2 separate regions of the Homo sapiens genome follow, and region 1 is linked to region 2. Evidence: fine-mapped expression QTL. A gene starts in region 2. The other region holds a variant in brackets. All regions are shown on one strand. Distances are from middle to middle. Region 1 overlaps LRRK2-DT (LRRK2 divergent transcript). Region 2 holds the start of LINC02471 (long intergenic non-protein coding RNA 2471).

What was found. PIP is the estimated chance that this variant, and not a neighbour inherited with it, causes the effect.
Region 1: its variant is fine-mapped to the expression of LINC02471 in esophagus mucosa (GTEx, PIP 0.94).

Annotation. Positions count from the first base shown.
Region 1 is chr12:40,173,793-40,179,180 of GRCh38, reverse strand. All of the region lies in intron 1 of LRRK2-DT (LRRK2 divergent transcript), which reads left to right. Among named protein-coding and RNA genes, the nearest start is that of LINC02471, 20 kb to the right of the region's middle. The variant C/T (reference allele first, on the strand shown) is at 2,598.
Region 2 is chr12:40,154,113-40,159,500 of GRCh38, reverse strand. It overlaps LINC02471 (long intergenic non-protein coding RNA 2471), which reads right to left and starts at 3,262. Exons shown (of 2, transcript NR_146526.1): 1 at 3,158-3,262. It overlaps LRRK2-DT (LRRK2 divergent transcript), which reads left to right. Exons shown (of 9, transcript NR_186757.1): 5 at 783-923; 6 at 1,446-1,647.

The DNA.
Region 1 (5,388 bases), 20 kb before region 2:
AATGCTGAAAAAAGGTTGCTAAATCAGATTTTTAAAATACTGATTAATACCTGTCAGGGCAATAAAACTATAACTTTTGGGCTTTATCTCTTCTACTGGAAAGATAATATTTGTTTCTCTATGAGAAAAAAATAATTTACAACCCAACAGTCTTTGAGAAAGCAACGTCTAACTTTGCAGTCTGAGCGCCTGTTAACAGTAAAGAGTAAATCTGGCCAGGCACAGTGGCTCATGCCTGTGATCCCAGAACTTTGGAAGGCTGAGGCAGGGGGATCACTTGAGGTCAGGTGTTCAAGACTACCCTGGCCAACATGGTGAAACCCTATCTCTACAAAAAAAAAAATACAAAAAATGAGCCAGGCTTGGCAGCACGCACCTGTAGTCCCAACTACTTGTGAGGCTGGGCATGAGAATCCCTTGAACACAGGAGGTGGAAGCTGCAGTGAGCTGAGCTCGCACCACTGCACTCCAGCCTGGGTAACACAATGAGACTCCAACTCTCCAACTCAAAAAAAAAAAAAAAGTAAATTCAACGAAAGTTGCAACCTCTAAATGCTCTCATGCAGGCTGATTAGTATAACAGTGAAAGAACATTCAGTGACATTTTTGCCTTATCTTTAAGTCACGGCTAATTCATCTCAGATTTTTGAACAATTTACAAATAACTCTTTTTAAGACAATCCATCCAAAAATTGAGAGTCTTCTATACAAATGAAGTAGGTAAGCATGGCCCATGACTTTCGGTTTTGTATTTGGGAAGACAGTGTATACACATAGACAAAGCCCAATGATGTTTACAACACATGTTTTTAAAAGTTTAGTTTGATGTATGAATAAGTAGTTGGAATCAGTTCTAGCTTAATGCAAGTAATCAGAAAAACTATAAACATGATTTCTATACTTAAAACATTAAACATCAACTTTTTGAAGAAAGTACATAGCTTCAAAGTGCATACCATGTACTATACATTTTAAACTATGTATTTATTTTTATTAAATTCAGAGTTCATTCCAAAAATTATCTCAGTCTAAATTCAGTGCTTATGCAAAGTCACTAATTTTGAAGTCTCCTCTTCTGCCTCCTCCATACATATAGAATAGAAGCACTAGAAAAGCATGGCTTTTTCTTTGAAGAGATAAAATTCATATGCAAGCATAGTGTATGAAAAGATATATATTCCACAGGAATCTCTTCTTTTTTTAGTTTTACCGAAAGCAGTATTTTTGCAGTTATACATTCCAATATTATAATACCATGCAAGTGAAATGAGCAATTCTAGTTTTGGAGAAATTTTCTTTCAAATTCCTTTAAAACATGTCCATATCTTTTTTTTTTTTTTTAAATCTGTGCTTAAATAAAAAACAAAATCTGAAATGTTTGCAAAAGACTTCCACACATAGTTTACCTTACTACACTGTAGGAAATGAAGCCTTGAGTTAAACCTTTTGTAGAAAAGGTCTCATACATATCAATGAGGAAACACAAAGACAACAATGGTGAAAAAGCTAAGGGTGTGAACAGAAAACTAAAAAGAAGAGCTACTGCTCAGAGGACTTAAGGACTTAAAGTCATGGCACTCAAGAAAAGCAAACTAAAACAAAATATCAATATTCATCTTAATTAGCATGTTAGGTGTTTGTTGTTGTTGCTTGTTTGTTTTAGACAGAGTCTCACTCTGTTGCCCAGGCTGGAGTGCAGTAGGGTAATCTCGGCTCACTGCAACTTCCACCTCCCATATTCAAGCAATTATCCTGCCTCAGCCTCCCGAGTAGCTGGGACTACGGGCGCACACCACCATGCCCGGCTCATTTTTGTATTTTTAGTAGAGATGGGGTTTTGCCACGCTGGCCAGGCTGGAGGCTAGAAACCTCTAATCAATGTGTCTGCCGGGACATGCTCTCTCTAAAGGTACTAGGACAAGATCCTCTTTTGCTTCTTTCTGCATCTAGTGTTTACTGGCAATCCTTGACTTAAATTTAGCCTAAAGCTGCCTCTTTACATATTTTAAGTTTGAAAACACCTTTGCAAAGATTATGGCAGTAAAAGAAGTCTGACATGGGCCAGGTGCGGTGGCTCACGCCTGTAATCCCAGCACTTTGGGAGGCCGAGACGGGCGGATCATGAGGTCAGAAAATAGACCATCCTGGCCAACACGGTGAAACCCCGTCTCTACTAAAAATACAAAAAATTAGCCAGGCGCAGTGGCAGGCGCCTGTAGTCCCAGCTACTCCGGAGGCTGAGGCAGGAGAATGGCGTGAACCCGGGAGGCGAAGCTTGCGGTGAGCCAAGATCGCGCCACTGCACTCCAGCCTGGGCGACAGAGCGAAACTCCGTCTCAAAAACAACAACAACAACAAAACAAAACAAAACCCAAAACACCCTAGCCTCTGAGTTCTTAGACTGATTTGAATGATAACTCCAGTTCTCCCATATGCCTGGGCTTGTGTCAATTAAACTCTGTCTTTATTGCAATGCCATGGTCTCAGTGAATTGATTTTTGTCTGTATAGCAGTGTAGCAAGCAGGAAGAACTGATTAGGTGACGTCAAGTTCAGCCTAAAGGTTTCTCCATACATAGTGAACAGTAGCTAACTGTA[C/T]GTGTAAACAGAGTGTAACTTACTCTTCCAACAGTCACAGAGATTTAGCACATCATTGGTAGCCAACTGTTCAAACCCTGCTTAAATAAGAGAAATGCCAAGCTATAGCCAATCCAGCTGTTTCTGTACCTCACTTCCAATTTCTGTAGGTCAGTTTCCTTTTTCTTTCCATAAATCCTCTCCAACCACATGGTAGTGTGGTGCTAGATTGTCTCTGAGCTTGTTCTGATTGAAGGGGTAGGGCTGCCCAATTCACAAATCATTATTTGCCCAAACAAGCTGTATTACATTTAATTTGTCTAAAGTTTTTCTTTCAACACTTAGCATTTCTTGGCTTGCAGCTGCATCACTCCAATTCCTGCCTCCATCTATATACAATGTTCTTTCGACTGTGCATGTGTGTTCACGTTTCCCTCTTCTTACAAGTACACCAGTCATTGAATTAGAGACCACCCTAATTGAGTATGACTTCAGTGTAACTTGATTGCATCTACAAAGGTCCTATTTCCAAATAAGGTCATATTCTGAAGTTGTCTCCAGGGAGACACAACTTTGTGCTATTCAACCTGTATAATTAACAAGAATTTTTACTTAATGATCTGTCCACTGTTTGGAATCAAACAGTGTTCATCTGTCACTCTACATCCAAACAGCCGCAGCCTGACATTTTCGCCTTCTGAATCTGACTTTTCCTCACCATTACCTCTCCGTCTGTCTCTATGTTCTCTCCTCCACACCACACCAGGATGACCCTTCCAAACCTCAATCATGGAATGTCACCCCTTTGCTCAAAATCTGTCTAGAGCTTCCCATCACGCTTAGAATGAAGTACAAAGATTTTGCCAGGTCTTACAAGGCCTTACATACTCTATACCCTGGGTCCCTCTATGACCTCATTTCTAACCCACTTCACTTTGTTCACTCTTCTCAGGTAGCTCTGACCTTTACGTAGATTCTCTCTGTTACCACCTCTCATCATTTTCACTTGCTGTTTCCTGTCTGGAATTTTCTCCCTCAACACTTTACCATGGCTGGCTAATTCACTGTGTCCAGATCTCTGCTCAAATGCCACTTCTTCCATAAGTTCTTCCTTTTAGTGAGTTATAGGTATGCAGTACTGGAACATATGCAGGAGTACAACCTAAATAGGAAACGAAGCACTACCTGATTAAACCAGACCAGCAGGCTTCACCCCTCCAAATTTGATGTTTCTAGTAAACTGCATTGGAGAACGCAGTTTAGATCTGAAGCAGAAGTGAGACTTCCTAGTCCCTTTCCTCTGAACTGAAGGCAGCTGATTCCATAGCCTGGGCCCAATATGAATTGATCACCCAGTTGCAGGAAGTTGTATCTGAGTCAGAGAACAGTGGTTCTCTCTTCTATGTGGGTAGGCCTGCCAGGTATAAATACCACTCAGCCACACCAAACACAATGGAGCCACTTGTGCCTGGATGCAAAAAGTAAACTAAGTGTGGCATATCCTCCAGCTTGAACCATAAAGCATAAAGAGCCTACCCAACAATCAATATGTATCAATGAATGTCAAGTTCTAAGTTACCAGAATTACCATCTCTTCTATGAGACAGTATTATAGGTTGAATTGCGCCCCACCAAAAAATGTTTAAGTACTAAACCCGAGAACCTACGGATGTGATCTTCTTTGGAAATAAGGTCGTTGCAGATGTAATCAATGTAAGATGAGATTGACCTAGCACAGTGGCTCACACCTGCAATCCCTGCACTTTGGGAGGCTGAGGTGGGTGGTTCACAGTTCAAGAGATCGAGACCATCCTGGCCAACATGGTGAAACCCCATCACTACTAAAAATACAAAAAATCAGCTGGGCGTGGTGGCATGCACCTGTAGTCCCAGCTACTCAGGAAGCTGAGGCAGGAGGATCACTTGAACCCAGGAGGCAGAGGTTTCAATGAGCTGAGATCGTGCCACTGCACTCCAGCCTGGCAACAGAGCAAGACTCCATCTCAAAAAACAAACAAACAAACAAACAAAAAACAATGTAAGATAAGATCGTACTGGATTAGTGTGTACCCTGGTGCAATGACTTGTGTCCTTATAAGAAGAGATACATTAGGACACAGAAACACACAGGTGGGCAAAAGACCATGTGAAGACAGAGGCAGAGATTGGTATGATGCAGCTGCAAAGCCAGGAATGAATGCCAACTGCCAGCACCCACCAGAAGCTAGGAAGAGGCAATGAAGGATACTTTCCTAGAGCCTTCAGAAGAAGGCATGGCCCAACCAACACCTTGATTACAGAATACTAGCCTCAAGAACTATGAAATAATAATTATGAAATAATAAGGCACCCAGTTTGTGGTACTTTGTTATGGCAGCCCTAAGAATCTAATGCAGGATTGAAAAAGGAATGGATTGGAGAGAAAATATGGAAGTGTTCCTTCCCTTCCAACTCTCCCTCAAGTGGGGAAAGATATTTTTGTAGAAGTTTTATTAAACCTATTAGTAGAAGCAAAAATTCAGGAGAAAAACAGGGAAGTTCTCACTCTCCAATATTTTATTTCTTCATATCCCATTGGGTGAAATAGCCAAGCCTATGTTTGGGCATGCATTTCTCTTGGGGAGACCAGCTGAGCATCTGGGCCAGCCTTCCCCACCTTCATGAGCCTGCTTATGTCTGTTCCCCTGTGTCTTCCTTACTCAGTGAACTGGGGAGTTTAGCACTGGACCCAGTGATCTTTGAAATAGGTCAGAAAGAGACAGAAATTATCTAATTCTATAGACATGGTACAACCTACGCCAAAAAATCGTTT
Region 2 (5,388 bases):
GACATTGGAAATAAACATATTGTATTAGAGTTACGTTTTAAGTCCAAAAAAGTCCTTTAGGCATTTTCCAAAATGGAAAAAAAACATTTTATCTCATCTGTATTACATTTCAGATCACCAGTGAACAATTGCTTTTTGGAAACTATAAACTCTAGTTATTTAGGTGGTAACTGCCTTCCTAAAGTAATTCTCACTTTTTCTCAGTATGTGGTAGATTTTTCAAAATGGCAGGAACACGGTCCCCTCAATATCTTTAGATACTTGTTATCTTCCTAAATTTATCTTTCACTCCATAGCCTTTTCCATGTGAATTTGAAGTGTCCTTTTATTCTGATGCTGGGGTCTGCCAGCATTCTGGCAATGGGAGACTAGGTGATGGGATACAGCAGATCTTGAAAAGCACTCATGCGAGTGTGCATGCCTGTGCTTGCCCTCTTCCTCTGCCATGAGAACATGCACCAGCTAGCCTGCTAGAAAACAAGAGACATGGAAAGCACAGCTGAGCCTCCCTAGTTGCCACAATGCTATTACTAAATCAGATGACAGCCAGTTGACTCCTAGACATGACAGCAAGCCCAAAAGAGATCAGCAAAGCCACAAAGCTGACCACCCAAGACACACAAGGAAAAAGCATATATTGTTGTGTGCCACTAAGGTTTTGTGGTTGCTGGCTACATGTCATTATTGTGGCAATATAGAGCTGATTCAGCAGATACATCAGGACTGTGTTGGCACTGTTTTATAATAAAGTGAATTAAAGAGCTTTGGAACATCCTGTACAGAAAGCAATGAAGAGAGAGAGTCTGAAGTGATTATGAAAAGAATATTGAGCAAGAAGAGGAACTTCTTGAGTAAGAAGTGGAACTGAGAGGTGCTCATCATGACATTTAAATATTTCCTGAGAATTCTCAGAAATATTAGGGGTGAGGAGAAAGCTAAATTTCCTATAGCCAAATGTAGCTTGGTGACACAAAATACTGTATTTGGTTATTTAAAAGAAGAGGGGGAGGTAAAACGTAAGAAGGCCAGAGCACCTGGGACCTTGTTTTACTAAAGCTTATTATGGTGAGTTTCTTGAATCCTTAATGCAACAAGGGAGGGAACAAAGAATAGAAAGTAAAGAATGTGCTTCTTTTTCCCATGATTAATAAGCCACCAAGGAGCAGAGACAATATGTTATTTATTTATTTTGTCTCCCACAGTATCTAATACTGTGATTTATGCATAAATTAGCACTAGTATGTGGTTTGTTGAATTCAGCTGGACAATTATGAAATAATTACATTGTAATTCCTTTGAGTTCTACATTAGAGTTCTCATCCAAGATTTTTCTGAAAGCCACATTCAAGTGTTTGAAATTGACACAGAACCCCATGTTTATTTGCATATAGTTCAATTTTAAGATCTAACCAACCTAATCTAACTTCATGTAATTACAAATTTAGTTTCAGTGGCCCTGGTTCCCCATGACAAAAGTACAAAGAGTACCCGCAAGAAGTAAGTTGAAGATAAGGAGTGAGGAGAAGGAAGGTTAGTGGTAAGGCCACCAGTGATTCTAACAGCAAAGGGACAAGAAAAAAGACTGGAACTTTATTTAGAGGATAAAGCTGATGCCTGGCTTGCCATCTTGCCCAGATGGGACCTCAGGTAAGTCATTTAATGTCCCTAAGCTTCCTTTCCTTTAATTACTTCAATTATCTGCAAAAATGAAGTGAATAAATATGCCCTGTTTACTTCATTGATCATAATGAGAATGAATGGATACGGGATATGTGAAAGCCATACAGACATTACACAATGTGATAAACCATCATCCTAACACACAAACCTAATCTTTATTGTGACTCAAGATTAGGGAACACTATGTTTTACATAACATCATGCTGATCTAACTCTAGCTTTATGATGTTAACTAATCTTTTCTAAATCCAGAGAGCATAATACCACCCCTTCGAAAAGAAGTGTCCACTTGCCCTTTGGCCAAGCTGTAAACAGACGCACCAAGAAACTTCCTCAGTGAGGCTGTCATCTTGGCATTAGATCCATGAGTCAGAGATTTTGGCTGGCTAAATTGTAAAGACCACTTTGAATAACTTGCAATTGTCTTGTTTCTTAGACTATGCACACTTTCTCTCTTTCAGTTAACGTTAAAATGATATATGCAATAAATTGCATATTTGAGTAAATGACATACGCAATAAATTACAACATATGCAATAAAATCAATTAGGTAGCCTTTTCTGAAATTCAGTAAACCCACCAGGAAGGGTCAGAGATAAACCCTTGATATCTAGCAAAAACAAATAAAAATAAGATTTTCAACAGATCAGTGGATTTCATAAAAGATAGAACGTATAATATGAAAGAAACACTGAGGGTACATGATCATCTGTGAAGCATAATGTAATGAGAACAATACTGGACTTGAACTAAAAGTTTTGTGTTCACAGCCCAGATTTACTCCCAACTATATGATGTTGAGCAAATTACTGAATGTCGCTTAAGCCTACGTTTTTGCATTTATATAAGGATAATAGTACCACCTACCTTACAATATTACTGAAAAAGATTCAACTGGGCAAGGCTAATTAAATAATAATAAAGTATACCATATTCTTAGTTTCCTTTTTTAAAAAATCTTTCCTGAATTTTGGTTAGAGTAAGTCCTGATTCAAAGGACAGATGTGTGTGTCTTCCTTCCTTGAAACTAATACTGTTTCTGGTGAGCTTTTGCTCATCCAACTCTGTAATAGAAATCCCATATTCTTGCTATAAATAAAGGCCTTTATAATTTGTGACATTTACTTCTTACCTAAATATTCTGCAACTGCAGATCTCAGACTCTGGCTCTGTCACATGAAAAAAGTCTTCTGTGTGCTCACTGCGTCAGCATACTCTACCACCCTTTCTGTATCACCTCATATGGTAGGAGCTTACATAATTGTAAAGTGGTTGCATAGCAACCAAATTATCAAACACCTCCATCCCACTTTTTCTGTCTTAAACCCTCAAACAACTAGTGGAGCATTTTCAGTTAACAACAGTCTTTAATCAGAGGAGAGAAAATTCCAGGTTGCTGATTCAGTTATTTCTTTTTATTTACCTCTATTTTTATATTCACCCGGCTCGTGTGAAAAACAAAAACTGAAGTACTCACAGATGAGGCAGTGTTTAGCATCTAAACACACCATATGCCAAGGGATAGATGTTGTTGTTGCAGCTGTCCAAAGTTAGCCAGGTTAACACTGACAAACAGCTTCCCCCAGAACATGAGAAAACCACGGCCGCCTGCTCCTTGTTGGCTGGTGGAGTGAAACAGACTTTACAGTACACTGGATCAGCTAAACTGTGAATTACAGGTGAACCAAAGCCATTCTGTCAGTCATTCAAGGAAAAATGACTTCACTCAGCTAGAGGACACTCCCTTGACAAAAAAAAAAAAAAGGAAAAAGGACTTGAGAAATCATTGAATCAAGACCTTCCTTGCTCAGTTCAATTGATTTGCCTAAAGTCATAAAAACAGTAACTTAGTCGCAAAGATGTAATAAGGAAAAATCTTCCTACTTGAATTAAGGATTCCTCCAAGGAGGCAGCATGATACTGTTTTAAGAGCACAGGGCATTAAGTATAACCACCTTGGTTTACATTCTATTTCTCAATTACAAGCTACCACCAAGTTAACTTTTAGGGGTTTCAGTTTCCACAATGCTACCTTACAGCATTATTTGGAGAGCTGCATAAGACAATCCACATGATATTCATGTTACTGCACCTTGTGCAAGTTAAGTACATGTTAGCAATTATTATTATTATTATTCGGTGGTCTAGGAAATCCAAATTTGTCTGGTCCAGAAACAAACAAATTGTCCTATGTCTTCAAAAGAATGGAGCATCCTACATTCAATGGAACTGTAAAGTCAAATAAGCTTTAAAAATTTAAAACTATATCTAAATCACTGACTATTTGGTTTAAAATTCTGTCCCCCCTGGTTCTTGGATGACTATTCTAAGTGTTCAACAAATTTCACCAGCTCAAAACAGTAACCACATATAATGTGGAATTAAGAAACAAGAGTTTGTATTTCTACCTAAAACTCTCATTTGACCCTTTAAACCAGATTCCAGTTTTTTTTTGCTTTGTTTGTTTGTTTGTTTGTTTTTTGGTGGGAGGAAAGAGGAAGAAAATGAACAAAACAAAAATATATGCAGTATAAGAAACCCGGTCTAGTTTGAGCCTTGAGCCATGACGTAAACATTCTTTTAAAGAGAAGCTTCCATGATTAATTACTACAGTTTATTTTTTCCCCCTCTAGGAAATCAACAATCAACTAGATGTAACACTTGGGAGAGTTTATTTTTGGCTAGCCTAGTAATTATAGCCAGAACAGAGCAGGGCAGGTAGATAGGAAATATTTTAGAAACTATTTTATCAAAGCATCAGGATTTTCAAAAAGAACAAGGCAGGGGTTCCCTCCCACACTTAAAATAACAATGAAAAACATGGCTGCGGTTAGATTCTTTAAGAAAAAGAATAAGTTTGAGTCTTGCTCTTGGGCCTGGCCACGCTTATCGGTGTTATGCTTTGCATGTCAGATGCTCTCTTCTGTAACAGTCTTCTCTTTGCCTAGTGAGGAGGAAGACTCATTCTTTCTGCAACCTCAAAGAGTTAATCAATATGAACATAAATATTCAACAGATATCAATTGTCCTTTTGCCTACCTCTGTGATACCAGGAATATTTTCTCAAATGACTTCCAAGTGTTGTTTTGCCATGTCTGTAAAAACAGACTGTCAGAAGTGTCTGGATCAAGCAATGGGAGCAGTTAAATAGAGCTTTCACCCCTTTCGTCTTTCTTCTGGAATAATTTCTCTGACTCTCATGCATACAGTGCACACTAGCAGATGCTAGCGTTTTGGCGTTATCTGTGACCTTCTATAAAAGTTGCTACTAAGATGGGCGCAGCAGCTCATACCTGTAGCCCCAACTACTCTAAATGGCTATGGTATTCTCAGGCTAAACTCATTACAGTGTAATAATCTGCTATTCCAAAAATATTTATTTACTTGATAGCACAGTGGACCCTGAAAGGCATTGTAGGTCTTTTTGTTTGATTAATTGCCTGTTCACTTTGTTTTCAAACATCATCAATATAGAAGAGGAAAATGATATTAACAAAGACCATATAGTGCTTAAAGTATGTGAAGCTGGTTAAAATATTCCCAGTTGATATTTCTTTCTCTGGCCATATGAAGAAATTTACAGGCCAGTCATGGTGGCTCACATCTGTAATCCCAGCATTTTGGGAGGCCAAGGCAGGAGGATACCTGGAGCCCCGGAGTTTGAAACTAGCCTGGGCAAAATAGAGAGACCCCCCATCTCTACAAAAA